Homo sapiens: one gene and its partners. The protein of the gene in region 1 interacts with the protein of each later gene in a pairwise test. Each region holds a gene or a part of one and is shown in the gene's direction. Other genes may lie near its edges.

What was found.
Region 2: the proteins of SLC2A3 (region 1) and MTNR1A interact in a two-hybrid assay, tested with the Homo sapiens proteins (one large-scale study listed by BioGRID and IntAct).
Region 3: the proteins of SLC2A3 (region 1) and MTNR1B interact in a two-hybrid assay, tested with the Homo sapiens proteins (one large-scale study listed by BioGRID and IntAct).
Region 4: the proteins of SLC2A3 (region 1) and CREB3L1 interact in binary tests that used the Homo sapiens proteins (3 or more experiments, as listed by UniProt).

The regions. Positions count from the first base shown.
Region 1 is NC_000012.12:7,928,966-7,934,673, reverse strand, and holds part of SLC2A3 (solute carrier family 2, facilitated glucose transporter member 3), read left to right. Parts: intron 1-771; coding exon 772-864; intron 865-1,526; coding exon 1,527-1,687; intron 1,688-3,188; coding exon 3,189-3,429; intron 3,430-4,031; coding exon 4,032-4,194; intron 4,195-4,802; coding exon 4,803-4,990; intron 4,991-5,708. UniProt on the Homo sapiens protein: Facilitative glucose transporter. Can also mediate the uptake of various other monosaccharides across the cell membrane. Mediates the uptake of glucose, 2-deoxyglucose, galactose, mannose, xylose and fucose, and probably also dehydroascorbate.
Region 2 is NC_000004.12:186,548,063-186,553,770, reverse strand, and holds part of MTNR1A (melatonin receptor type 1A), read left to right. Parts: intron 1-5,708.
Region 3 is NC_000011.10:92,966,333-92,972,554, forward strand, and holds the start of MTNR1B (melatonin receptor type 1B), read left to right. Parts: upstream 1-3,318; 5' UTR 3,319-3,393; coding exon 3,394-3,616; intron 3,617-6,222.
Region 4 is NC_000011.10:46,297,182-46,302,889, forward strand, and holds part of CREB3L1 (cyclic AMP-responsive element-binding protein 3-like protein 1), read left to right. Parts: intron 1-2,753; coding exon 2,754-2,982; intron 2,983-5,708.

The DNA.
Region 1 (5,708 bases):
GTTGGCCTCAGGTATAAAAATTGAGCTGCCCCAAGGTAGAAATGGAAAATGTCTCGCCCGGCTGAATTATTCCAGGCAAGGTGAAGATGACCGGTTCTCCCCACTAAGAAATGTCTCTTATATGTTGGGTTCGCCCTTATATGTTGGGTTCAGAGTAAGTACTTTCTTCCCCTGCGCGGGAGTTAGGGATAGCAGAACTGTATTTAATAAACGAAGACTGAAATGGGGCCAGGATGCAGTGAGTAGATCCAGTAGGTTACATGGTCCTGAGAGATAAGAGACTCAAAGAGCCACCCAGCAGTGAAGACACAAACTACCACCCCCTCCACCACCACCAGTGGGCTTCCGTGGAGTCTGGGGTACAGATCAGACTGCACTGTATTTGTTTCCAGAATGGTCAATTCTTAGTAATCCTACCCGAGACTGTCTTTTTCTCTGCCCTCCCAGTTCGTGAGTGGAATTCTATGCCTACATTTGCCTGATGCAAGTTTTTAAATATTTCCAAACTGACCAACCCAGTTTCTCTTAACTTCTTCCTTCCCCAATTTTCTTTCATTTTTACCAAGTTAACTTCACATTCTTATCTCCAGATAAGTTCTTTAGTATAATCTATTCCTTTGTCTTCCCCATTAATTACCTAAATCTCATTGGATGTTCTTTTCATACCACTCATAACTCAAATTCTCCTAATACAGCTCCATAATTAATAAGAAACAGTCATCAATCACAAGTTTTAAGGACTATTCTCTCCTCTGTCTTCCCTCCCTCCAGGTCACCCCAGCTCTGATATTTGCCATCACAGTTGCTACAATCGGCTCTTTCCAATTTGGCTACAACACTGGGGTCATCAATGCTCCTGAGAAGGTGAGTGCCAGGCCACAATAATTAGAATTTAGAATAGGGAAGTTATTCCTTTAAGTAGGGTTTCAGGAATTCAGAATTTAAGGCCAGGCATGGTGGCATCTGCCTGGAGTCCCAGCTACTCCTGAGGCTGAGGCTTAAAGATCACTTGAGTCCAGGAGTTAAACACCATCCTGAGCAACACAGTTAGTGAGGGTCCCTCCCCAAACTAGGGGATTTTAAGACAAACTTTGTATCTATCCTGTCCAAGACTGAAGATGGAGACAATATTGGTGGGGAAAATTAGTGGGGTCATCTAATCGAAGCACAAAGCTCACTTACTCCCGGAACGCTGGGCGGTGCTGTTCTTCCTCCCACTCTTTCACCTCATAGTGATGCACATCCTGTATTATCCCTTAGGGGTTAGTTACAAAGAAGCTGGGTTCCCTTAGCAGAGGGCTGGGGTAGACTGTGAACATCGGTGCTGCCACCTACTGGGATTTTCAGGACAAATAGAATTACTATTCCAGCGAGAGTTAACATAAATTCCAATACGTTATCTGCCCCTTCCATTCCTGTCTATTTATTCCCTTGATTCTCTAGGAAGGAAATGATCCCTAATGTTTGTCTTTTGTTCTCATCCAACTGTAACAGTCTGTTCTTCCACCAACCCTTTTATTTTGCAGATCATAAAGGAATTTATCAATAAAACTTTGACGGACAAGGGAAATGCCCCACCCTCTGAGGTGCTGCTCACGTCTCTCTGGTCCTTGTCTGTGGCCATATTTTCCGTCGGGGGTATGATCGGCTCCTTTTCCGTCGGACTCTTCGTCAACCGCTTTGGCAGGTATTGACTAGAAACTGGGCAAGGAAGTGGGCTCTACCAGCCACATTGAGGACAAGTGTGGAGAGTTAGGGCAGGGAGGTGATGATGCCTTTGAATAAGAACACCTTGAATTCTAATCAAGGGAAACCTAGTCCAACTGGCCCCGAATATGACTGCCCTTGCTTGGAGCTCTACTACCCTGGAGAGCTCCCACCCAGCTGTGCAAGAGATGAACTGTGAGTGATTGGCCTTTGCAGTCCAGCTAGGGATAGTTCAGAATTATTCCCTAGTAAACTCAACTATGGGGTTTCTAGAAACATACTTAATTTACAAGGTCCGAAGTTGTTTACTTGTATTATAAATGTTTTTATTATTTTACCCAGGATTGGTAGGAATTATTTTTGTCTATGGCAAATGTGGATAATGACAAAAAAAAAGTCTTATTCTATAGAAGCTTAACAATATGTTTTAGAAGGTAGAATATATTTTCATTTATGACTAATGAAGGAACTGTTTTAATTTGCCAATTAGGCACGGTGTGGTGGCTCACCCCTGTAATCCTAGCACTTTGGGAAACCGAGGCAAGTGGATCAGCTGAGGTCAGGAGTTCGAGACCAGCCTGGCCAACATGGCAAAACCCTGTCTCTACCAAAAATACAAAAATTAGCCGGGCGTAGTGACAGGCACCTATAATTCCAGCTACTCCGGAGGCTGAGGCAGGAAAATCACTTGAACCTGCAGTGGGGGTGCAGAGGGTGCAGTAAGCTGAGATCTGGCCACTTCACACCAGCCTGGGCGAAAGAGCAAAACCCCGTCTCAAAAAAAAAAAAGCCGGTGCCGTGGCTCACGCCTGTAATCCCAGCACTTTGGGAGGCTGAGGCGGGCAGATAACAAGGTCAGGAGATCGAGACCATCCTGGCTAACACGGTGAAACCCTGTCCCTACTAAAAATACAAAAAATTAGCCGGGCGTGGTGGCATGCGCCTGCAATCCCAGCTGCTTGGAAGCTGAGGCAGGAGAATCTCTTGAGCCTGGGAGGCGCAGGTTGCAGTGAGCCGAGATCCTGCCACTGCACTCCAGCCTGGGTGACAGACCAAGACTCCGTCTCCAAAAAAAAAAAAAAAAAATGCCAATTAGATATTCTAGAAATGCAATTGGAATTCACATTTAAAAATCGGTAAAGCAACCTGTTTTACTTGATTATGTTGTTCTTTTGTTTTTTTACCCCCCAAGAAAGAGGGTCTTGCTCTGTCACCCGGGCTGGAGTGTAATGGCCCAATCATAGCTCACTACAGCTTCGACCTCCGACCTCAGCTCCCTGAGTGCCTGGGACTACAGGCGGGCACCATCACACCTGGTTCCCAACTAGAAATGTTCTGATAATAGAAAGTGAAAAACAAAAGTTAGATTAAAAAAAAAAGGGATGATATGAGCCTGGAGAAGAACAGAATAATGAGGACAGAGGAGAAGTTAGGAGCCTCTCACTTTGCTAATTCTACTTTGTCTTTGATTAACCTTACAGGCGCAATTCAATGCTGATTGTCAACCTGTTGGCTGTCACTGGTGGCTGCTTTATGGGACTGTGTAAAGTAGCTAAGTCGGTTGAAATGCTGATCCTGGGTCGCTTGGTTATTGGCCTCTTCTGCGGACTCTGCACAGGTTTTGTGCCCATGTACATTGGAGAGATCTCGCCTACTGCCCTGCGGGGTGCCTTTGGCACTCTCAACCAGCTGGGCATCGTTGTTGGAATTCTGGTGGCCCAGGTACTCTAGAACTTCTCATACTTAATGAGTGTTAGTTTCATGGGTCATTAAAAAAGTTAACATAGGTAAAGCACTGAAGAATATCTGGCACATGTTCAATTACATATGGAAGTTTTAGATAATAGATAGTAGCTGAAGAAGCAGGCTGAGGCCGGGCGCTGTGGCTCACGCCTGTAATCCCAGCACTTTGGGAGGCCGAGGTGGGCAGATCACGAGGTCAGCAGATGAAGACCAGCCTGGCTAACATGGTGAAACCCCATCTCTACTAAAAACACAAAAAATTGGTCGGGCGTGGTAGCGGGCACCTGTAGTCCCAGCTACTCCGGAGGCTGAGGCGGGAGAATGGCGTGAACCCGGTAGGCAGAGTTTGCAGTGAGCCGAGATTGTGCCACTGATCTCCAGCCTGGGTGACAGAGCAAGACTCCGTCTCAAAAAAAAAAAAAAAAAAAAAACCATGCTGAGTAGAGAAAGGAAAAGAAACACAATTTGTTTATTTTTTCACATGGTAAAAGAATGTATGATTTTCTGAACTTTTTGTGTTTTAATGAACTTGTGGCCTGTGAAGTATGGGGTTTATAGCATTATCTTTGTGTGGTTTCTAGATCTTTGGTCTGGAATTCATCCTTGGGTCTGAAGAGCTATGGCCGCTGCTACTGGGTTTTACCATCCTTCCTGCTATCCTACAAAGTGCAGCCCTTCCATTTTGCCCTGAAAGTCCCAGATTTTTGCTCATTAACAGAAAAGAAGAGGAGAATGCTAAGCAGAGTGAGTATCCTTCACACCTTACTACATGAATTATATGGTTGTGGTTTGTTTTAGGGATGATTGTACTGGACCTACTTTCTGTTACACTCTTTCCCTGCCTCTCAGAATCCAAGTGAGGAGGGTTCTGATTACTCCTGAGTAAAATTTTCAGCCCCTAAAGAATGAGGTGAAAAGGCGGGTTTAGGAATGGATGCTATCAGGCAGGGTGTGATGGCTCATGCCTGTAATCCAGCATTATAAGAGGCCGAGGCGGGTCACCTGAGGTCAGGAGTTCAAGACCTGCCTGAAACAACATGGAGAAACCCTGTCTCTACTAAAAATACAAAATTAGCCGGGCATGGGGGCGCATGCCTGTAATCCCAGCTACTTGGGAGGCTGAGGCAGGAGAATCGTGTGAACCCGGGAAGTGGAGGTTGCAGGGAGCTGAGATCATGCCATTGCACTCCAGCCTGGGCAACAAAAGTGAAACTCTGTCTCAAAAAAAAAAAAAGGAATGGATGCTACCCATCACCTCACCTCGTGCGGCCCTTTCCTGGCTGCCTTACAGGAAGAATGAATTTGGGGCAGCACATTCTCTTTTATCCTTTCCTCTTTCTTCTTTTCACCAGTCCTCCAGCGGTTGTGGGGCACCCAGGATGTATCCCAAGACATCCAGGAGATGAAAGATGAGAGTGCAAGGATGTCACAAGAAAAGCAAGTCACCGTGCTAGAGCTCTTTAGAGTGTCCAGCTACCGACAGCCCATCATCATTTCCATTGTGCTCCAGCTCTCTCAGCAGCTCTCTGGGATCAATGCTGTGAGTGTGATACTTTAGGGTCAAACGTGTCTTAAAGTATTTCACTTAAAATGCCGGGCATGGTGGCGGTGTGCCTCTGTAGTCCCAGCTACTCAGGAGGCTGAGGTAAGAGGATCACTTGAGCTCAGGAGTTTCAGGTTGCAGTGAGCTATAATTATGCCACTGCATTCCAGCCTGGGAGACAGAGTGAGACTGTGTCTCTGAAATTTAAAAAAAGGAAAAAAAAAAAAGACCCTGGAAGGACACTGGCAACTTCAGAGTGAACTGACTTTACCAGTCTGTTTTTACAACTAGTATAGCGAGCATGGTAGTTTAAAGAGGGCATGATAGATGATAGTTTAAAGAGGGCGGCACAACGGAAGCTAGCATTTGGCAGGTAGCCCTTGTATTCCATGCAAATATCAGCTTCCTGCATTTGACTGTGGATTGTAGGAAGAGAGTATTCCTGTGCCTTCTAGTCAATATGGATATTAAGAGCACCCTTGTCCCACCTTTTTAAATACTGATTCATCCCCTAAGGGTTTTCAGATAGTCTTTGATCAATGGGATTAAATTATTTTGTAACAAAGCATTTTGCAAAACTTACTATTTTGAGCATTTTGATGCTCAAAATAGTAAGTTGGTTCTTGGAACTTTTCTCCTACCTAGCACACCAGGATATTTGTATTTGAAGTGGCAGTGCTTCTTATGAGGGGTTAGAGGCTGTTATGTCAGAATC
Region 2 (5,708 bases), on another chromosome or scaffold:
GGAGGCCGAGGTGGGTGGATCGCCTGAGGTCAGGAGTTCGAGACCAGCTGGCCAACATGGTGAAACCCCGTCTCTACTAAAAATACAAAAAATTAGCTGGATGTGGTGGCCCACAGCTGTAATCCCAACTACTTGGAAGCCTGAGGCAGGAGAATCGCTTGAACCCGGGAGGCGGAAGTTGCAGTGAACAGAGATTGTGCCATTGCACTCTAGCCTGGGCAACAAGAGTGAAACTCCATCTCAAAAAAATAAAATAAAATAAAAAGTAAAAAATGATCACGCCTGAACAATTTTACTTCTTGTGTTTTCTGAAGAAGAACTTAAGAACTCCTTACACTCACTTTGTATTTTATTTGCTAAGACGTGCTCTTAAGAGGATATTCCTGTAGCTGCATGGGAGACCCTTAGTGACCTTTAATCCGCACAGCTTTAGAAGTTCCATATTTTTCTAATAGGGATTTTTTGTTTATATGTGCGGTTCAAGCCATTTGAGGATTTCTGGAATGGATGGTAATTTGAAACAGTGATAAGGATAGCTGATTCAAATATAAGTTTTGGTATGCTTATTAAAAGTTTTGATGATCTTCAGACCTCTCATTTCAGCTAAATTAATTTTGTTGGCTTTAAGGATGAAATGTTGGGAAGAAGAGAATGGAAGAAATGACAATGTGAAGGCATCTAGGCTTTGAACCATCACTTTCCTTTGGAAAGCTTGGTATAATTGTGGTGATTTATGCCACCTTCCTCTCCTCAAGGGACTGTGTTGACATTTGACTTCCCAGGGAATAAATTAAAAATGGCTAACAATCTGCATGGCGGGGACAGTGGACAGCCACAGCCGACGCAGGCTGCAGACAACCACTGGTATCTGTGGTGCCAACAGAATATTCGCTCTACTCTTGTCCACAATTTGATAATAGAAGTGAAGCTACCATATCATATCTTCTGAGTAAATTTGATAGCATAAGGGACGATTCCCGCAATGGAACGCTAGGATTAGATCCTTGCTGTGCTCCTTCTGATTTCAGAAATCAGTGAAGCTAAATACCAAACTTCATTTTCCACATTTGTTGAATTGCAGGTAATACCCAACCGCTTAGCCTCATAAGAGTGTTGCAATGACTGTAGTGAAGTGGCGCATATGAGAATACTTTGAAAAGGATAAAACACGTAATACTGTGTTGGCTTGTTTGTTTTCTGGGTACACCTAACAAGGGCGTGCTCTGTTTGCTGGAAATCATTGCACTATAGACCTATGATTCGTGCATTTTTCTATATGTACATTATACTTAAATAAAACTTATTTTACAAAATATCAGGCAAGAATACAATACTATCTTGCCTATTCAAAATTCAATTATCTGGCAATCTAACTGAGGTAGAGTACAGCCAATAAATGGAAATTAGCAAAAATGACAGGCTCTCACCTACAGCGGATTTGTTCTAACTTAGAGTGCCACAAAACTGTGATACTGGTGTCTAGGTCCCTGTAGATTATGAGCAGGAAATTAGGAGGAAGATTGACACATTTAAAGAAATAGCACATAATAGCAAGCAGTATGGGTTGAAATAGACTCATTAAATGCAGATCTGAGAAACAGAACAAGCACAACCTTTTGTGCTTACATTGTGAAGATGTGAACAGCCCTGCTCACCATTCACGGCTCCTGAAAGCAGCACAGTGCAGCAACATATGTATTATCATCACCTGATTCATCAGCGAGAGATGTCATCATGAGTGGTGTGTTCTACTTAAGAAGACAGGGATATGATACATTTTAGAAAGATACCTGTCAAAAGCAGTTTATTATTATTATTATTTAATCTGTGTGCACAGTAGGGTAAACTTGTCAGTATATGTTTTTAAAAATGGTTTCCCAGAATGGCTCTATGGCTGGATGGCTGACTCTGTGTGAAGCCTCTCTTGCACTTGTTGCTTTCAGGTCTCTATAGAATGTTATATTTATTCATTCTGCATTACCACTCAGAGAGGATGCATAGAGTACGGAGTGAATGTGGACTTTGGGCCTCAGAGATCTGGTTCAAGTCTCGGATGTACCACGGCTGTTTAAGATGCCACTTTTCTTACAGGGATACTAGAAGGATAAACTTAGATTCTGCCTATCAGTCCACTTACCTACCCATCCACCCACCTATACGTCCAACCACCCATTCATCCATCCAGCCACCCATCGTCCGTCCATCCATCCATCTATCCATCCATCCACCTACCTACCCACCTATCTATCATTATGAGGTACAAATAATAGTATTATGATGTTAATGCTAGTACGCATCTGGTGATTAGTTCTTTTTAGATTGTTTTTATTTTTTAAGTGTATGTTTAAAAAAAAAAACAAGTAGACAATATGAACTGGAAAACAGTGAAATCAACCAGAAATGGAAGGTTTAGAATCTAATTCCCATTTGTGACATTATGCAAAATACACAAAATCTCCATTGTCTGAGTTTTCCCTTTTGTAACAACCATTATCTCTCTGCAGCAAGAAGGCCTGAGATTTAAAGACTGATTATTTCGATATTCAGCTGTTCTCTAATTTTAAGTGAATCAGCTCTAGAAGCTACAGTAGCTTCCTTGGGCAAGCAGGCTACCATTCAAAAACCTACGACGTAACTTGTACTGTACAGACTTGGAAAATGATTTCAAGCTAACCCCACTTCATGCGATCTCCAAGCCGAGAGGTTTCTTGTTGGCGCTGCTGTAGTTTCCCTCCTGTTGCTTTCCACAATATTTGAAATTACTGATTCAAGGCAATTTTTTACTTTAGAGACATTTTATTGATTTTTCCCCCTTGTATTCTTAGCTGTTGTTCAGTTTTCTATGACTTTCTATCTTGGTTTGTATAGTACATTGTTATGAACCCTAAGTTTTTACAAATATGTCAAAGTAATTCCCAGAATCCCCTGTAAATCTTATGACAGTAGTTTCAGACTCTCAAATACATGATTGAATTTGTCTGATCTTTCGTTCCTCCAGCTATTCATTTCGTAAGAAAGTATTTCTGGCAGGAATTTTCAGTGTTAAATTAATCACAGATAAGATAGAGCTTACTTTTGCTTGCCTTCAGCATCATTTTTCTCTTGGCAATTTTGGGAGTTAACCTAGGATAAAATAGTCCTAGATTAGACCTCCTTCTATTAATATTTACTGCCATTTGATGGTTCTGTTTTAAAAAGCATCTACACTGAAAACTATCATGCCTTGGAAGTCACTTTAAATCTCCACAGAGTCTTTGGAGCTCATTCTGCCCATTCTTCCTTAGCACCTTTTAAAAATAATCAACAGAATAACTGAAATGAATGGTAAGATCTTTACAAGGTGCCTTAAGCTTTCCCTTTTTTCTACATATTTGTAAGTTGCCTCGCTGACAGAAATACCCTTTCTTCTAAAAAGGAAACTCACATACTCCTTTAGAGTTTTCTAGTACCAAAAAGGCAATTAGTGGATTGTTGTTAAAGAAGCGTTTTTATGAATGCACAGAACTCTGCACGGTATCATTGGTGCCATCTCTGCCTCTTCATGAAGATGATCAGCAGCCTCACTTCTGCCCCTCTCAAATAATCAAGGTGACCAGGAACCTGAGCGCTGTATGTGATATCTCTGTGATTTTTAGTGCAGTTAAATAATGCTGCAGATAAGAAATAAACTGCTGGATTCTCTGGATGAAGTACTCAAACACTTGTCTTTCTACAGAGCTGTATACACTTTCGGCAATGCCATTGAAGGAATCAGTCTCAGAAGAAGAGACGGGAGAGAAAATGCATTTGCACGGTGCTGAATATTATTTAAGTTAATGGAGGTGAATTTGAGTTGTTAGGGTGCACGGTTTAAAAGCGTGCTCACTTGCTTTGATACTGAGTAGTTTTGGTGCTTATTGAGCTGAACATTTACCTGGATAAATACTTACTGCATTCCTAGAGTATAAGGCAGAATGTAAATGGTTGGTAAATTTTTGCAGGTTTGTCAAAATTCAAGGTCCTGTTCTAAGCGTGGGTCAAACGCGGCTCCGACTTTCAAAGAGATTACTTTCTATCGAGGCACTTTAGAAATGTGTGTTCTTCTTATTTTCAAACAAAGAGAAGACTTGGGGTACAAAAGTATGAAAATAGGAGCATATTTATACAGCAGAAAACTTTTTCAAGAGAAATGCGAAAGTTGGCTGGTAGATGGTAGCTGGAGCTTAAAGCAATCATGAGAATTTTTTAAAGTTGTTATCTTACGAGGAGAGAACAATGTAATAACTGGGAGATGTGAAAACTAGTTCACATGTGAAATAGCAGCAGATTGAGACGGAATTAGTGAGAGAATTTCAAAGAAACTGATCAGTGGTAGAGACACGGCATAACTATTAGTGAAGAACACACTGGCTTCAGGTCTTTCGAAGAAACGCCTGCTGGAGAACTAGCCTGCTAACTTACATTTATACTTGTTTTCTCAAATAGTTATTAAGTGGTGGATTATAAAAATGTGTAATCAGTAATTAGTATTTCCTCTTTGATGATTTTCTGAACATATTTAGGAATATGTTCTTGGAAGGGATATTGTGCTTTCATCCTTCCTGCATTCATTCCCTCCTCCTTTATTTAAATGCTTGCTGGATGCCTCCTATATCCATCTATAGGAGCTTAGGACACGATTTTGTTTCAAGAGAAAATTCTGGTTCACTCATTTTTATTTTAAGATGTGGTTTAAATTGCAATTTTTACTTTTAAGATTTTTTGCCAGTTAGTTTTCATTCCATTTTTTCCTTTTATTATTTACTTATCTTTTTTAGCTCCTTTCGTTGTTCCCTCTGAATTTGGAATACTTCCAACTGTTCTCATTTGTGTATATGTCTGTGTAGGTATCATATAGTCTTTTACCATGTACTTTTTTTAAAAGATTGTTTTACATATATAGTGTATATATATATATATATATATATATATATATATATATCTTTATAGATTAAGCATTCCTTATCTATGGAAGATTAGTGCTATTATAGGTCATTTTTTTTGGGATGTGTCCCTCTGAAACACATGGCCTCTGGAACCAGATGCCTGGAGTAAAACCCGGGCTTTGCCATCTCATGCGTGTGACATAGGGCAAGTGACCTAATTTGCTCAGTTTCCTCACTTGTTAATTTGGGACAATACTAATATTGTAAGGACTAAATGGCTTGCTGTATACTTAAAGTGCATTATGAATTAAATATAACATTCCCAGCAGCAGAATAAATTCCTTTTGTTAGTTAGTATTCTTGGTGTAGAGTTCTGATGTGTAAACATATTTTTATTTTTAAGGCAGAATGCAATATTTCACACTTACAGGTCTTTAAATACTCTGTAAGTACATAAAAATAGAGTCAAAGTTTTAACTTTTAAAAAGTTACTTTTATGAGAATATTATTTTATACTTTTGTAGTGTTAACATATTTTCCTGTCATTGATTTAACTTTCATATATAAATAGGGTTCTATTATGATTATACCATTTTTAATAAAACTCTCTTTTGGATTTAGCAATTTAGAGTTATTATTTAGTGCAGTTAATCTGTTTATTTAAGATGGGGTTTTCACTGAGTCCTTCAAGGTTCGGAAAAGTGCCTAAGGGAAAAAAGACTCCTACCCTAAAGAGAGTTCATATAGTTTTTTTTTGATTGCCTGTTAATGTCGCTGAAGGATTATGATTTTGTTTTTGTTAAA
Region 3 (6,222 bases), on another chromosome or scaffold:
CTATTCATCTTTCCCTCACCCCAAACTCTTGGCAACCACTAATCTTTTTACTGTATCCATAATTTTGCCTTTTCCAGAATGTCATATAATTGGAATCAAGAAACAGTATGTAGCCCTTTCAGACTGGCTTATTTCACTTAGTAATATGCATTTACAGTTCCTCCATGAGTGTTCATGGCATCATGGCTCATTTCTTTTTAACACAGAATAATATTCCATTGTCTGGATGTGCCACACAGTTTGTTTATTTATTCACCTATTGAAAGACATCTTGGTTGCTTCCAAGTTTGGGAATTATAAGTAAAATTGCTGTAAACATCGGTGTGCAGGTCTTTCTGTGGACATATATTTTCAACTCACTTGGGTAAGTACTAAGGAATACAATTGCTCGATGCGATGGTAAGGGTATGTGTTGTTTTGCAGTGCATCACCAAACTGCCTTCCAAAGTGGCTGTATCATTCCCCCACCATTTTAAGGCACAGCCTGGCCAGCCATGCCAGGATGTAGCATTGACTTCTTAGATAGGTGAACATCCCAATTCTTTGTGCCTATCTTGAGATATGCTATTATGGACAATCACATTCCAAGGCAGCATAGGGCAAATTCCTATGTTTCATGCTCAGTTTAACAAATGTGTGTTATTAGAGGGTGTGTCTGGATGGAGGTAACTTATACTGTGTCCAACTCACCTATTGCTATGTTGGCGTGTGAAAGTTGAGAAGTGCCACGATGTGTTTGCACCTGTAAGACAGGGAAGGCGTGGCTGTCTCTTCTTCCTGAAAAAGCCTCTTGGCTTTGACACTGCCCATTGGTGTCTCTTTCCCCTTTGCTGTTGCTCTCCTGAGGACATGTTGGTCATTCCTCCTCATTCACTGGGGATTCGCCTCCTGACTCATAGTTTTCCTTTTCTTACCCCACCATAATATCCACCCCCGACTTCTCAGTTCCTTTACCTTCTCATCTCTAACAACATTTTTCTCACCTTCCACCAGCAACCCACTACCCATAATCACCCTCAGAGCCTTCACAGCAACAGAATCTACATGCCTCAGACATCTCAGTTTCAAACAACTCACCCTTTCAGCACCACAACTTACATTTTCTGATTCACTCACCACAATTCCTTGAAGTCACAGGGCCTGCAATCTCTTGACTTTTCCTTTGTCTCACAGCCCATCAGCCCCTCTGTTTTCTCATCACCCCTCATTAATGTAAACCCCAGGATCCATCTTCTCACCAGGCCCCTGAACTTTCTTCTGTTATTTGCTCCTACCCAGCAGACCCCAATCCTGACTGAAATTCACTCTGCCTTCTCCATGCCTGTCCTGAGTAGCTCCAAGTTGCTGATTAACAACCACTGGCCAGGCTGAGTGGCATCATTTGAAGCCATCATCTCAAGCTGCAGGGGGACATTCATGCTCCTGACACGCCTGTTATACTTTACTAGTTAATGTTTCCACTTTCTGAAGTGCTCCTTCATATCTTTTTTTTGTCTTCAAATCTCCTACACTGTTCCCCTGAATCCTGGCTAATGGGTAGCCTCTATCTCCCTGAGAATACAGAAGCCAGACAAGAGTTCTCTTCTTTCCTCACACCAGTTTAGAAGTGCATCTGAATTTGCATCTGGCTTCTGATTCCTTTCTACTACAAGAAAGAAAGCCTCCCTCTCCTAACAAATAATATTTCTTCCTTGGGTTTTGGATGAGCTCACTTTAAGGAGTTCTGGATTAGCTCACTTCAAGGATGAGCTCACTTCACCTCTCCCTTCCCTCTCCCTTCCCTTCAACATCCACTCATGCCTCTGCATCATCAGCCCCTCCGTCTCCACTGCATCCTTCCTTCTTTTTTTCCCCCCTTTAAAGGAGAGGGGCAATATAACTTACGTAAAATAACATATGTAAAAATAACAATCCAGAAATTTTTTGGTGTTTGTTTCTCAATACCCACCCTCAAATGTAACCACTTTTCTGATTTCTATTAGAAAATAGATTAATTTTCCCTGATTTTGGACTTCCTATAACTGGAATAATATGGTATATATTTTTTGGTATCTGGCTTCTTTTGTTCAATACAACATATTTGTGATTAATCCATGCTGTTGTGTAGGTCAATCATCTTTATTGCTGAGTAGTATTCCATTGCAAGGTCATACCATAATTTGCTTATCCATTCTTCTGTTGGTGGAAATTGCAGGTGTTACCAGATTTGAGCTCCTATAAACAAGGCTGCTCTGGACATTCTTGTACAGGTCTTTTGGTGGAAATATACTTTCCTTTTCATTTGGAACTTCTGGTCATAGAATAGGTGTATATTTAACTTTATTAGGAGCTAACAGACAGCTCTTCAAAGTGGCTATACCATTTTGCATTCTCATAAAAGCAGTGTATGAGGGTTCTGGTTGCTTAACTTCCTCCACAAATATAGGATAATCAGTCATTTTGATTTTAGTGATTCTAATGGGTGTGAAAAGTGCTTTGGGGTCATAAGATTAGCCCCCATTAGAAGTTATCTATTATTATTATCACCAGATCACGACTCAAACATTTTTAATAAAGGGCACCTGAGTTCCTTCTTTATTGTAATCATGCCTCAATCTTCTTCTTGTCCTAACCCCTCCAAAAACCACATCATAACCCCCAATATTGGCCATACATCTATTTAAGTATTATGTGTAAATATATGTTGGTAAATATGTTAAAGTATTGGCTTTATAAAGAGGACCCAGTAGAGACATCATCAATGCCCCCCACAATACCCAGCGAGTGCTTGGAAAATGGCTAGGTTCGTATTTTTCTGCAGCTCCCTAGAATATAACAGTCTACCCTACTTTGTTCTGGGCTCTGTCCCCACATCTTAGGAGTTGCATTCTCTTTCGGGCTGCACAGCCCTATGGGACGTCAAACCTTGCCTTTCTTGACAACTGATGGGAGGTCCCTACCATCAGCACCTTCTCCAGTCTATCAACCTGGGTTGGACGTCCCTACCTAGACACAGCTTCTCTTGGGGACGCTGTGGAGGAAATCGGGGTCTCGGGTGTGGCTATATACTCAGGGACAGAAGCTAGACGCGCTCCGCAGCCTGAGGTGGGCCAGGCACCTGCTGGGCTCGGGGTGGCAGAGACAGCTGTGCGGTCCCAGCTGTTCCTGAGCGCACCGCTGAGGGACGCACTCCCTTCTACAACGGCTGCACCCCAAGTCCTCCTCCCATTCCTATATTTTTCTCCATCCCCTGCCCACGCTTAATTAGTTATCTCCTCCAGACCCCTCCCCACTGGCCTCCTCCCTTGCACACGCGAGCTGGGCAGGGAAGAGAGCGCCCGGCTCAGTACTGCGCGCGCCCTGCGGCTGTCCGGGGCCGCGCGGTGGCCAAAGCACAGCGCGGGAGAGTCTGCGATGTCAGAGAACGGCTCCTTCGCCAACTGCTGCGAGGCGGGCGGGTGGGCAGTGCGCCCGGGCTGGTCGGGGGCTGGCAGCGCGCGGCCCTCCAGGACCCCTCGACCTCCCTGGGTGGCTCCAGCGCTGTCCGCGGTGCTCATCGTCACCACCGCCGTGGACGTCGTGGGCAACCTCCTGGTGATCCTCTCCGTGCTCAGGAACCGCAAGCTCCGGAACGCAGGTGAGCACCATTCCTGATGCTGGGTGCTGGCATCGGGCCCTTCCTTGTCTTCTGATCTTGTCCCTGACCCCGGGATATGCGCTGCCTTTTCCCTCCTCAGCCCGGGCTCCCCTTTCCCTTCACTCTAACCTATTCCTTAAGTTTGACTCTGCACTCAAAAGTTAGGGTGAGTTTTGCCCCTCCGAAGTGCGGCTGCCCAGGACGCGCTTGGCACAGAGGGAATTGCGGAAAGTTTTACTGGCGCGCTTTTTGGCCGGGCGCCGGCGCTGTGGGAACCCACGCTGCTGGATGCCATCGCTACCCCGTCGCGCTCCAATGCGTGTCTTTCCAGAGGTGCCCACATCAGGCCACAGAAATCTCACCACCTGTACTTGACATCCCACTTCCTTCCTTGCCAAGCACTGTAGCTTTATGTAGTAGTCGCTTAGAAAATCCTTGCTGAAAAAATGAGTTAATCAATGGAAGCATTTCAGTAGGTTTTGTGTCAAAAACTTATCTCCAGGTCATCTGAAGACCCAATTCCAGTTGACGGAGAGTAAATGCAGAAATTGCAGATTCTGCTTGGACTGAACTAAATTGCTTTGAAATATTGTGGTCTTTTCCGAAGACTGGGAATTCCTGGGATTAACTGTGAAAATTAAAGCAATGATTTGGCTAAATCGTGTTGTAATCCTGAAAATATTTTTCCTATTTCAATCCACTCTCATTTCAATATTCCCCTAGTCAGGTCTTCAAAGAAACAAAACCAGAGTGGGGGGCAGTATCTGAACTCTAGCCCTCACAGGTCATGGGGCATGATGACCACTTCAGCTTAGGAAGGAGCTCAGTCACCTGTTTGTTAATTTTGCAGTTTCTTCAAGTTGGGCCTTGGGAGCAAATTCAAATATTAGAGTGAATTAAAATGGAAAGATAGCAGCAGTAAAACAACCATATAGCTTAAAAATGCTTTTCTAAGGAGTCAGACCATTTTTAGCAAATAGTAATATGTATTTGGTGTGGCCTGTGACTCTAGAAATTTTTTTTTTTTGAGATGGAGTCTCTCACTCTGTCACCCAGGCTGGAGTGCAGTGGCATGGTCTAGGCTCACTGCAACCTCTGCCTCCCAGGTTCAAGGGATTCTCTTGCCTCAGCCTCCCGAGTAGCTGGGATTACAGGCGCTCGCCACTACACCCAGGTAATTTTTTATATTTTTGGTAGACACAGTATTTCACCATGTTGGCCAGGCTGGTCTCGAACTCCTGACCTCAAGTGATCCACCCGCCTCGGCCTCCCAAAGTGCTGGAATTACAGGCATGAGCCACTGCGCCCGGCCAACTCTAGGATTTTTAGCTAAAAAAACAAACAAGAAACTCCTCCAACTGTGAGTATCCAGCCATCATATGGGAAACATAACATTATTAAGAAGAAGTAAACTTTCTAACTCACTTCAGTAGTGGTGGCTGTTTTCTGGAATACATTGTTCAAAATATTGTGTCCTTTGAAGAAAAGCTTATATATTAGGGAAAAACAGGTTATGATTAGAAAACTGCATTTAATATTTTTGACACATTGTCCCTTGCAGCCATCATAAACATTCATTTCCAGCACAGGGAAGCAAAAGGGAGACAACTCCTGGCTCTATGGGGGAGAAATGGGTCCTCCTGGTTCTGACATTGGCCCCTTCTGTCCCTGACTTATTGAGTATTTAGAGCAGGTCTGTCAGGCCATGGCTCCCTGCTCAGTAATTTGGATTGCCCACCATGAGAAAGGTGGTTGAGGGAAGTAGGAGTTGCTTCCTTTTGCTGGAAGGAGAAAAGCACCCCTCCCCTCCTGCATCCTACAGAGGGCTGGCCTTTTCTGTGATCCTGGCAGGGTCTGCAGAAACCTAACCAGTTTAAGAGCATCACTGGGGAGGGTCATGAGCATGTTAAATTGCTGGCATATCCTCTGTTCTATCTTTCCTACCTCCTGATGTGTCCGCTACAGCCCAGCACCCGAACAAAAAAAAATAATAATAACACTATATCTAAATGACATCAATTCCTGCCACTGCTGCAGTCTTGCAATTTAACCAGTTCTTATGTGACCTCTGGCTTTATTGGTGACAGTCACAAACAATTGTAGTACTGACTTGAACTAAATGATCTCAGCAGAGTGAGATTTCAAAAGGCGCTTAAAACCTACAGCTCTTTGAATAGTTAGCACACATTCTACTCTTAATCAGGCCTTGTCTTACTGAAGAGTTTGGATTTAATTTAAGAAACGCTTCTTCAGACCTTTCTGTACTTAAGTCTGGCTCCTTAAATCATTGGTATTAAAAAATTAAGTCTGTAACAATGAGAATACATATATTTCCAATAACCAAGATACATAGCCCATATTGAGGTCACAGCATGTTTCCCAGGAGACACCAGTATCCTTTACTTGCCTATCACAAACCCAGTTCCTCTATGGAGCAGATCTGTATCATTCCTAACAGTGCCGCTCCTGATGGCAGGGTGAGTGGTTAGATTAATTGTCTTTTTTTTTTCAGGGATATCCTATCTGTAGTGTCTGTTGCTGCATGTGGTGGGTTGACTTCAGAGATAGCACCAGAGAAAGGCAGACAGGGAGGAGTGGAGGCAAGG
Region 4 (5,708 bases), on another chromosome or scaffold:
CTCTGCGGAGGGTGTAGCCAGCGCGGCCCTGGCTGTGGCTGGCTGGGTGGTTGGGGGGTGGTTATACCCTGTAAATGGCCTCTGTCTGGGATCACAGTGATTCTTAGAAACTCATTCAGCTCTGACCTCCTGGTACTGCCTCACTCCAGGTATTGATGGACAATTGGTATGCTGATGGCATTGCCATCTGGGTTCTAAGGCCCTGTCCCTCCACCAGTATCATGAGCCAGGTGCTGGAAGGCAGCAGGTGAACAGGGTGCAAACCCTGCTTCAGGGCAATTACCGGACCGGGGAGGGTCTGCTGCAGTTGTAAAAGACTGGACAGTGAGGGATGGTGGGCACCTCCCTGCTGCATTAGCGCCCTTGGCCTCAGTTTCTCTCTCTGTCAAATGCCAATATGCATTTGTCTTGTCTCATTGGATAATTGTGAAGATTAAATGAAATAATGCATAGGAGAGCACTTTGGGTTAAAAGCACAACAGAAATGTAGGATGATGATTGATTGCTGGCAAACTGGGAAGTGGGAGAGTACCCCTGCCAATGGGGCTTCTGAGCTCATTTTGTCCTGGATTATCTCATCAGGCTTTGTTTGGAGGGAAAGGCCAAACATTCCCCCCACAACTCCCACCATTGGTTCCAAGCTCAGCTCGGGGACAGAGTTTAGGGGCTGCAGTTTTCATGATGACGATAACTAACAATGATCGAGCATTCACTCTGTAGCAGGCACTGTTCTGTGTTTTATATGTACAGTATTTACTCATTTTACCCTCATACTCCTATGAGGTGAGTACTAATCTAACAAAATTTTAGATCCTCATGGCAACACTATGAGGTAGGAACTATTATTTTCCCCTTACGGATAAGGAAACTGAGGCACGGGGAAGTTAAGCAACTTAGCAAGTGGTGGAGCTAGGAGTCAAAAGCACGTCTATGTGACTCCAGAGCTCGTGTTCATCTCCTACTCCATGCAGACAGACTCATGTGGCCCTGAACCTTATGCTCATACAGAAGGCTTCTCTGCTCATTACCTTCCAGGTTGGGACAGGCTCCCAATATTCCAGGCCAGAAAGGGCCAACAACTCCAGACCTTGAAGGAATCCCCTGGCACAAGCCTTTAACCACTCAGCAGGCAGGGCTTCAGGACCTAAGGCAGCCCCCCATCCCCCATCTCTTCTGACCCACCAGCAAATTCATTCGTTCAATAAATAAGGAACAAACAATAGAAACATTTATTGGACAGGCACGGTGGCCTACACCTGTAATCCCAGCACTTTGGAAGGCCGAGGCGGGCAGATCACTTGAGGCCAGGAGTTTGAGACCAGCCTAGCCAACATGGTGAAACCCCATCTTTACTGAAAATACAAAAAATTAGCTGGGCGTGGTGGTGCGCACCTGTAGTCCCGGCTGCTTGGGAGGCTGAGGCATGCAAATCACTTGAACCCGGGAGATGGAGGTTGCAGTGAGCCAAAATCATGCCACTGCACTCCAGCCTGGGTGACAGAGTGAGACTCTCACAAGCAAGACAGAAAGAGAGAGAAAGAAACATTTCTTTACACATTTATAATTCTTTAGAGAGAGAAAAATAATGTACAAGAACCTACCATATGTCAGCCACTGGAGTGCTTTACTAACAATAAGAGGCAACGTTTATTGAGTAATTACTATGTGCCAGGGACTGTTATAAGGCCTGTACGTGGATTAACTTGTTTAATCCTCATGACAATCTTGGAAGGTAGGAACTATTAATATTACCAGCTGTACAGAGGACGAAATGAAACAGAGAGGTTAATTGACCTTCCCAAGATCATGGAGACCAAGATTTTTCAGACTTTTTTGTTTCTAAGAAATATATTTTACATCATTACCAAGTACACACATGTGCGTTCACACACACAACTGTGATTTTTTTTAATTGCCAGGTATTTAACTCCACTGTGTGCTGTGCACTCTGATATTTTCTACTTTTTTTTTTCTGTTTTATTTTTACTTAAAATTCTGGTCGTGACCCACTAAATTGATTTCACAACCCATTAATGAGTCACCACCCACAGTTTAAACAGCACTGAATCATAGCTAGAAGGATGGAGGCCACCATTCGAACCTAAATAGTAGGGCTCCGGAGCCTAACCTCTCCATATAAAGGATGGCTTGGGAAAGGAGAGAGACCCCGAAGTCTTGAGGACAGATGGACACTGTGCTGCTGAGGAGACTGGAGGCCTCAAGAATCCCACTGCCCTGCATCACTCCCTTCCCACATTCCAGCAAAAGATCATACAAAATTCACTAATATTGCCTTTGGAAAACAAACTTGTTGGCGTAGACACACGGTTGTTCTTTTACTTTGTCTTCACATCAGCCTATGAAGGAAGTAAGAAGGACTGAGAAACTGACTCACGCAGTTTAAGTGATTTGACAAAGGTCACAGAGCCCAGTGTCCTGTTGCCTGGTCCAGGGAGTTTTTGATCCCATCCTGAGCTCACCCTTGCAGATAACAATGGTGAGCGTGGAGCTGGTGGTAGAGAGAATGGGATGACAGTGGTAACGGTCATGATGGAAATGATGAGAGTTGGTGTTGCAATGTTGGTACTGGGGAGATTGGTGATGTTGCTGATATTAATGGGAATGGGCACAGTAATGGGAGGTTGCAGGGACAGTGGTGGCCATGGTGGGGTGCTGCACCACCACAGTAGCACCTGCACCCCCTTCCCAAGCAAAGCTGAATTCCCTCTTCCCCTCACCTCTTCCTTCCCTAGCACTTTCCTGAGCACCTGGACCACTTTACGGAGAACATGGAGGACTTCTCCAATGACCTGTTCAGCAGCTTCTTTGATGACCCTGTGCTGGATGAGAAGAGCCCTCTATTGGACATGGAACTGGACTCCCCTACGCCAGGCATCCAGGCGGAGCACAGCTACTCCCTGAGCGGCGACTCAGCGCCCCAGAGCCCCCTTGTGCCCATCAAGATGGAGGACACCACCCAAGGTAAGAGGTGGAAGAACCTGGGGACAGCACAGGCCCAGGAGGCCCAGGAGGGAGGAAGCTCTGGGGTGACAAGAGAGTGTGCCTGCAGCCTGAGACTCCCAGAGGCTCCAAGAGGAGCCACCACAAACCCCTTAGGAGGTGCTCCTCCCTGCCTTTCTGTTCTCCCTCAGCTCAAAGCCAGAGGAGCACTTCTCAAAAGGGTTTTTTGCTGACTTAAGTCAGTGGTTTACAAAGTGTGGTTCCCAGACCAGCAGCATCACCTGGGAATCTGTTAGACATGCAGATTCTCGGGTTCCACCCCCAACCTGCTGAATCACAACCCTGTGGGTAGGGCCCAGCCTTCCAGGTGATTCTGATGCACACTCAGATTTGCAAACCGCTGACTTAGAGGAGACAGTGGGGGTAATTCAATAATAACTGTGGGGCCGGGTGTGGTGGCTCACGCTTGTAATCCCTGCACATTGGGAGGCCGAGGCAGGTGGATCACCCGAGGTCAGGAGTTCGAGACCAGCCTGGCCAACATATGGTGAAACCCCGTCTCTACTAAAAAAAAAATACAGGGCCGGGCGCGGTGGCTCACGCCTGTAATCCCAGCACTCTGGGAGGCCGAGGCAGGCGGATCACTAGGTCAGGAGATCGAGACCATCCTGGCTAACACAGTGAAACCCCGTCTCTACTAAAAATATTAAAAATTACCCGGGGGTGGTGGCGGGCGCCTGTAGTCCCAGCTACTTGGGAAGCTGAGGCAGGAGAATGGCGTGAACCCGGGAGGCGGAGCTTGCAGTGAGCCAAGATTGCGCCACTGCACTCCAGCCTGGGCGACAGAGCGAGACTCCATCTCAAAAAAAAAAAAAAAAAAAAAACCAACTAGCTGGGCGCGGTGGTGGGTGCCTGTAATCCCAGCTACTCGGGAGGCTAAGGCAGGAGAATCGCTTGAACCCAGCAGGCGGAGGTTGCCGTGAGCCATTGCACTCCAGCCTGGGTGACAAGAGCGAAACTCCGTCTCAAAAAAAAAAAAAATACAAAAATTAGCCAGGCGTGGTGGTGCGCTCCTGTAGTCCCAGCTACTTAGGAGACTGAGGCACAAGAACTGCTTGAACCCGGGTGGAGAAGGTGTAGTGAGCTGAGACCGCACCACTGCATTCCAACCTGGGCAACAGAGTGGGACTCCATCTCAAAAATAATAATAACTGGCTGGGTGCAGTTGCTCATGCCTGTAATCCCAGCACTCTGGGAGGCTGATGCGGGTGGATCACCTGAGGTGAGGAGACGAAGACCAGCCTGGCGAACGTGATAAAACCCCGTCTCTACAAAAATACAACAATTAGCCCAGCATGATGCCCTCCATCACATGGTGCCTCCATTACATGCTGCCTGTCATCCCAGGTACTTGGAAGGCTGAGGCAGGAGAATCACTTGAACCTGGGAGGCGGAGGCTGCAGTGAGCCAAGATTGCGCCATTGCAATCCAGCCTGGGCAACAGAGTGAGACTCCGTCCCAAAAAAAAAAAATAGACGGGGTGCTGTGGCTCACGCCTATAATCCCAGCACTTTAGGAGGCTGAGGTGGGCGGATCATTTGAGGTCAGGAGTTCAAGACCAGCCTGGTCAACATGGTGAAACTACTAAAAATAGAAAAATTAGCCAGGCGTGGTGGTGGGCACCTGTAATCCCAACTACTCTGGAGGATGAGACAGGAGAGTCACTTGAACACAGGAGGCAGAGGTTGCAGTGAGTCGAGATCAAGCCACTGCACTCCAGCCTGGGTGACAGAGTGAGACTCTGTCTCAAAAATAATAATAATACTATCCTGGCTAACAGAGTGAAACCCCATCTCTACTAAAAATAAAAAATAAATTAGCCGGGCATGGTGGCGGGTGCCTGTAGTCCCAGCTACTCAGGAGGCTAAGGCAAGAGAATGGCGTGAACCTGGGAGGCGGAGCTTGCAGTGAGCTGAGATTGCGTCACTGCATTCCAGCCTGGGCAACAGAGCGAGGCTCCGTCTCAAATAATAATAATAATAATAATAATAATAATAATAATAATAATAATAATAAGCTGTAGACAAGTTACCAAGACTCTAGAACCTCACTGCCTCCTCATACTATGTTGTCCTCTGAGACGCTACTTGAGAGAGATTCCTTCTTTTATTCCTGAAGGTAGCATTCTCTAAAGCTCTCCTCTCCCCCTAACTCCATCCTTTAAAGCAAAGAGCACCCTGAGTTCTTCCACTCAGGTAATCAGCATTCAAGACCCACATTGTGCCCCACTTAGAAATGGTCCCTTCGGGCATTTCCTCAAATACAGGTGGTCCTGGCTCTGTCGCTTTTGGCTACGTGATCACAGACATGTTGCTTAACCTCTGTAATCCTTAGTATCTATATCTACAAATGCAAATAACAATAAACATTTCTATAGTACTCTCCAGTCTACAGATTGCCTTCATGTTAATTATCACATTTATTTCTCATGACTGACAGGTGAGGTTGGAATCACTTTTATCATAATCTCCATGTGACCGATAAGAAAACTGAGACTTGGCCGGGTGCAGTGGCTCACGCCTGTAATCCCAGCACTTTGGGAGGCCAAGGCAGGCAGATCACGAGGTCAGGAGTTCGAAACCTGCCCGACCAACATGGTGAAACCCCATCTCTACTAAAAATACAAAAATTCACCAGGCATGGTGGCGTGCGCCTGTAATTCCAGTTACTCAGGAGGCTGAGGCAGG